Regions from separate parts of the Homo sapiens genome. Here region 2 is linked to region 1. Evidence: fine-mapped expression QTL. A gene starts in region 1. The other region holds a variant in brackets. All regions are shown on one strand. Distances are from middle to middle. Region 1 holds the start of NUBP2 (NUBP iron-sulfur cluster assembly factor 2, cytosolic). Region 2 holds the start of TMEM204 (transmembrane protein 204).

The links. PIP is the estimated chance that this variant, and not a neighbour inherited with it, causes the effect. A credible set is the group of variants that fine-mapping cannot tell apart.
Region 2: its variant is the best candidate, but not a certain one, in a credible set for the expression of NUBP2 in sigmoid colon (GTEx, PIP 0.56).

Annotation. Positions count from the first base shown.
Region 1 is chr16:1,781,203-1,784,204 of GRCh38, forward strand. It overlaps NUBP2 (NUBP iron-sulfur cluster assembly factor 2, cytosolic), which reads left to right and starts at 1,758. Exons shown (of 7, transcript NM_012225.4): 1 at 1,758-1,834. The coding sequence starts at 1,819. It overlaps EME2 (essential meiotic structure-specific endonuclease subunit 2), which reads left to right. Exons shown (of 8, transcript NM_001257370.2): 8 at 1-500. It overlaps SPSB3 (splA/ryanodine receptor domain and SOCS box containing 3), which reads right to left and starts at 1,369. Exons shown (of 7, transcript NM_080861.4): 1 at 1,300-1,369; 2 at 156-293. The coding sequence starts at 281. RefSeq lists silencers at 977-1,336, 1,837-2,046, 2,474-2,700 and an enhancer at 1,547-1,696.
Region 2 is chr16:1,533,532-1,536,282 of GRCh38, forward strand. The region is part of intron 19 of IFT140 (intraflagellar transport 140); the gene reads right to left. It overlaps TMEM204 (transmembrane protein 204), which reads left to right and starts at 135. Exons shown (of 3, transcript NM_024600.6): 1 at 135-1,024. The coding sequence starts at 745. RefSeq lists enhancers at 1-164, 165-868. The variant G/A (reference allele first, on the strand shown) is at 1,315.

The DNA of each region.
Region 1 (3,002 bases):
GCATCCAGGAGACAGGCCCAGGTTTGGACTGGTCCTCTAGCCTCAGAAGCATCTTTTTCTCCGACTGATTCCGTGTTCAGGTAATGTCTGCCTGCCTGCCTAGGGCATCTCCACACCTTAGGCCAGCCACGTCCGCCTCGCCCGCTGGAACCTACCTGCCCATCAGAGTCGTAGCCCCAGTTAGTGGAGCCTGCTAGAGCCACGGCCCGGGCATCTGCGTCTCGGCGGGCTGCACTCAGGACGAAGTGCCAGGCCCTGCTGTTCCGGGGGCGTCTGGCCATGGTGGAAAGAATCTAGAAGAAAACACAGGCTCTGGGCAAAGGAAGACTCACAGCACTCCCAGCCCTGAGCTTCCAGGCTGGGCCACGGACCCACTCAAAGTGGGGACTGCAGGGGCCGCACCGGTGCCCAGCCAGGGCTCCAGAACGCTTCAGGAGCCCGTACCTCACTCCAGGATCTGAGCAGCTCAATAAAACCCAGGTAGATCCTGTGAAACGCCACCCAGACACCCATGACTCCGGAATGCGAATCCCAGCCCCTCTCTCCGGTTCCACCTCACGAACCTGGCTGCCCCGCCCGCCTGTCCCGCAGGCATCTAAAACCTCCACTCGCTCCTCCTCTGTCGTCCGGTTTGACAAATGGCATCTCCGGCCTCCCAGTTCCTCATGCCAGAAGCACCGTGACCGCTCCCCGACACCTTCCCCTCACGCCCGGCCCGACCGCCGCACCCGCCTGCATCCTCCTCCCGCCACCGTCTCCTGGGCCGCGCAGCTCGCCTTCCCCTCCGCTCGCTACCGCCAGGGCTCCTCGTGAAACACAAATCTTAAAACCTGCTCAGCGCTGGCCGCTGTTATGGTATAAAATGCAAAAGGCTGCGAGGGCCAGGTCTGCGCTTCCCAGGCCACCTGCCTGGCACCTCCCTCGCCAGCTCCGGGGTTCCCGCCTAGCCTTCCAGGGCCGACCCCTGCGCCGGGCTCGCGGCTGGCAACGCCCGCTGGGCCCCGGGTGGGGTTCCAGGGAGGCCGGGGCGGATCGCGGCGCCCGGACCGCCGAACCCTGCCCAGCCCCAGGCGAGCGCGTGTGCAGCGGGAGCCGCCCTCCCCGGCGGCAGCCCGGCCTGGCTGTTCCCTCCCGCGGGCGCGCGGGTTCCGGAGTCGGCGGCACCGGGGAAGCCTCTCTCGGGCGCGGCCCTCCGGAGAGGAACAAAGGCGGCGCCCTGGCCGCGCTGCTACCGCCGCGCCCGCAAGGTCAGCGCGCCCGCCCAGAGCCCGAGACGTCGGCCCGTGCCCCGCCACTCACCTGCAGCCCCCGCTGCGCGCTCCGCCGGCCCGGCCCTGACCCACTTTCCGCCCCGGAGCGAGACGTAAACAATCCCCGCCCCCTGCGCCCATTGGCTCCGGCGGCGAGGGGCGGGCACACCTGTCTCGGAGCTTCGGGAGAGGGGGCGGGAGTCGGGTGACAAAGCTATTGCCGAGAGGTTTCAGGAACTGTCAGTCCTAATCCAACGTTCCTATTGGTCAGTTCCCAAGCGGTTGGAGACAAAGCTCGCGCGCACATTGGACCCGGGTGGGAGGTGGTACCGCAGGCCGCGTTGACCGGAAAGTAGGTCCGTGTCATCGTCTGCGCCGGAACCTGCGGGACCGGATCGAGAGCTCCTCCGGCAAGCTGATTGGCTGGGACAGCAGGATTAGGCCTGTCAAGAAGAGCCACGGGCGGGCACGCACTGCCCATTGGTTGGAAGGCCCTTCGCTCTAGCTGGGAGGCTGACGGCCCGCGGGCGTAAGCGGACTGCAGCCGCGAGCTCCTGGAGGCGGCGGGATGGAGGCGGCGGCCGGTGAGTGGCGGGCCAGGGTGCGGAGCCGCTCCAGGGCCTCGCTTGGGGCCCCGCCGCGTCCCTTCCCGGGGCGGCCTCGCTGCGTCGCGCGCCTCCGGTGCGACCATCACCGGCCGGCGTGGCTGGGCCGGGCCAGAGGCCGCGGCGCGGGCATTTTCTAAACAGGGTCGTTTCCCGCGTGCTCCTGCTTCGATGTGGAAGCTCCGTGATCTCGGAGGGCCTGAGTCGTGGAGTTGGGGGAGCTTTTAAAGTTAACTTTGTTGAGCACCGCGTTGTAGGCGGGCGCGGTGGCGCCTGTGGGCCCCGCTATCCTGGAGGTCGCGGTTGCAACTGCACCGCAGCCCGGGCAAGAGCGAGACCCTGTCTCTAAATAAATCACACGCGCGCAGTCATGAAAGTAAGACGGACGCCAGAATCTCACATGCTTTTAAGTTCTTTGTGGAAGTGGCGCTCTCAGTGTTCAGAAAAGTGTAAGTTGCGCGGGACAGAATTCACACCAGTGGGGACGATCCGTTCGCCAGATCAGCGCCGTGGGCCCTCCTGAGTAGTGGGAGCCGCATTTATCTTCTAAGAGACCTCGAGTCCGATACCAAAAGGAAAACATTCCTCGGACAGCAAGGTCTTGCAGCACAACTCTGACAGATTAGAAACCGAGTGCTGGAGTCTTTTGTTTTTGAGACGGAGTCTCGTTCTGTCGCCCAGGCTGGAGTGCAGTGGCGCGGTCTCGGCTCACTGCCAGCTCCGCCTCCCGGGTTCACGCCATTCTCCTGCCGCAGCCTCCCGAGTAGCTGTGACTACAGGCGCCCGCCACCACGCCCGGCTAATTTTTTGTATTTTTAGTAGAGACGGGGTTTCACCGTGTTAGCCAGGATGGTCTCGATCTCCTGACCTCGTGATCCGCCCGTCTCAGCCTCCCAAAGTGCTGGGATTACAGGCGTGAGCCACGGCGCCTGGCCCAGTGCTGGAGTCTTATTCCAGAGGAGAAGCCTGGAAAAGCCTGTCCTTATTATCAGGACGGATTTACTACAAAGTAAGGATATTACTGAGATTGATAGAAGCTTTTTTTTTTTTTTGAGACAGGGTCTTAACTGTCGCCAAGGCTGAAGTGCAGTGGCACGATCATAACTCACTGCAGCCTTGACCTCCTGGGCTCAAGCGACCCTCCCAC
Region 2 (2,751 bases), 250 kb before region 1:
GCAGGGCCTCAGAAGTCTCCTGGCCTTTCCCATCAGGAAGCACATCCTGTTGGTGTCTGGCTGCCGCGGCAGGGCCGCTATTTGTTGCGGTTGGCTACGCCTTCCAGCTCACCAAAAACAGTCTCAAAAACAACCATTTCCTCTCTGCTGAGAGCCAGGGAAGGCGAGCTCTGCGCACACGGGCGTCCCTGCAGCAGCCACTCTGCTTTCCAGGACCGGCCAACTGCCCTGGAGGCATCCACACAGGGGCCCAGGCAGCACAGAGGAGCTGTGAACCCGCTCCACACCGGCCACCCTGCCCGGAGCCTGGCACTCACAGCAGGCCGGTGCTAAGGAGTGTGGCGCGGGCTCGACTCCCACTGCTGCCGGCCTCCCGAGTGACTCTGTTTTCCACTGCTGCAGGCGAGAAGAGGCACGCGCGGCACAGGCCGGCCTCCGCTTCCCGGGAAGACGGCGCACTCCTGGCCCTGGGTTCTTGCTGCTGCCCACCCTCTGCTCCCTGGGATGGGCCCCGAGGCGAGCAGCTTCAGCACAGGCCTGGCCCTGCTCCAGGTGCAGGAAGGAGGATAAGGCCGGGCCGAGAGGCGGCACACCTGGACCATCCCATGGGCCTCCGCCCGCGCCGCCCCGAGGATGAGTGGTGATGTCCTCTAGCCACCCCTAGCAGCGTCGGCTCTCCCTGGACGTGCGGCCGCGGACTGGGACTTGGCTTTCTCCGGATAAGCGGCGGCACCGGCGTCAGCGATGACCGTGCAGAGACTCGTGGCCGCGGCCGTGCTGGTGGCCCTGGTCTCACTCATCCTCAACAACGTGGCGGCCTTCACCTCCAACTGGGTGTGCCAGACGCTGGAGGATGGGCGCAGGCGCAGCGTGGGGCTGTGGAGGTCCTGCTGGCTGGTGGACAGGACCCGGGGAGGGCCGAGCCCTGGGGCCAGAGCCGGCCAGGTGGACGCACATGACTGTGAGGCGCTGGGCTGGGGCTCCGAGGCAGCCGGCTTCCAGGAGTCCCGAGGCACCGTCAAACGTAAGTCCAATTGTTTTCCTGATGCCTTCAGCGTGGCCGAGGCTCGAGGGCACATGGGAGATGTTAGGCGCGGACCTGGTGAGCGGGTGGGGAGGCCTGGCCCCTGCTCTGCCCTGAGCGTGGCCTCTGGGCAGGCAGGAGGGGGCACTGTGTCTCCCAGGGAACCAGGCCCCAAGGCCCCCTCTCCCTGGTGAGTGGTGGCCCCACACACTCCTCCTGCTCAGCACAGAATCTGCCTCCAGCTCTTTTACACAGGAATTCATCTCAGGCATTTGGGGGGCCTCTCTGCC[G/A]TTACACATAGTTAAGAGATGGGTACATTAATCAAATCAAGGAAAGGCATTTTTCCTTGGTTGAAAATAATTATTACGGCTGGGCGCAGTGGTTCACGTCTGTAATCCTAGCGCTTTGGGAGGCTGAGGCGGGAGGACTGCTTGAGGCCAAGAGTTCAAGACGAACCTAGCCTACATAGCGAGAGACCCTGTCTCTGAACATAAAAAAAAAATGAAAATGCTCTTTCTTTACTCATGAGTAAAATAAACAAGAAGTTTAAAAATACACGGGTGAGTTCTGGCTTTGTTCTCACGGTTGTTGGGGTCTTTGAGGCAGAGAGCAGCAGCAGGATCCCCAGGGATGAGCTTCAGATGGGACGCTGGAAAGGAGACAGGGAGGCCAGGACGCTCGGAAGGGGACAGGGATGCTCAGTGGTTGCAGAGGAGAGGAAGGGGCTCAGAATGATGCCACCGCACCGTGGGGTTTGAGTGGCAGGTGTGAGGCTGCATAAATAGGAAGGCGCTTACAGCCCATGGGGTCATCTCAACAGTCACGGCACAGGGACACAAGGTCTCCCAAAGGCCGACTCTCTGAAACTGTCAGCAAGGTTTTGACTCGCAGACACCCCAAGTCTCTGCTGCAGAGCCTCACAGACTCGGGGTTGGACGCTCCTTCTGCTCTGAAGATAATGCTGGTCTCTGAGGCAGTGCCTCTGCTCCAGGCTTCCGAGGGAGTCCCGGAGTACTGGGGTAACACACATCACGTGTGCCTCAACCACACAGCTCCATCCCCAACCTGCCGCGCTCAGAACCCTCAGCGGGGAATGTCATCCCCACTTCACAGGCAAAGAAACTGAGGCTTTGCAGAAGGCATGTGGCTTGGACAAGGTCCCACGAGGGAATTCAACCCCCTTGTCCACTCAAAGGCCCTCGGCTGCACCGCACAGCCTGGACTGCGCACTTCCTCTCGCATCCTTCACCAGCAGGGACCAACAGCCGTCTTTTAAAAAGATCAAAGCCTATGAATAACTTCAAAGCTTCCACCGGCTCTCAGAACTCGGTGTCTTATGGGAAGCCCGAGGCTTGGGTCTCCGCGTGACTCCGGCCAGGCGCCCTTCTTCCAGACTCTGCCTGCTCTGCTGAAGAAGGAGCCGCAGCCCCGTTACTGTGCTGAACCTCTCGCGGGGGCAGCGGCTTTAGGCCCCTGGAGGTGGGGCCGGGCGCTCATGTGCTTTGGGACCATCACTGGCGTCCAGCCCACAGAGCACCCCCGGGGGAGGGAGTTCCCAGCCGGCCCTTGGCCGCAGCTCTGCACCTCCAGGCCTCCTAACTGCTGCCACCAACACCCACAGGTGGCCCAGGCAGCCCAATCTCAGGGCAGCTGGAAGCCTTGGCGCCCCTCCCTGTTGCTACCTCTTGCGTTCCTCCAGTCACAGGGCCGCGTGTAGCCTCTGGCAC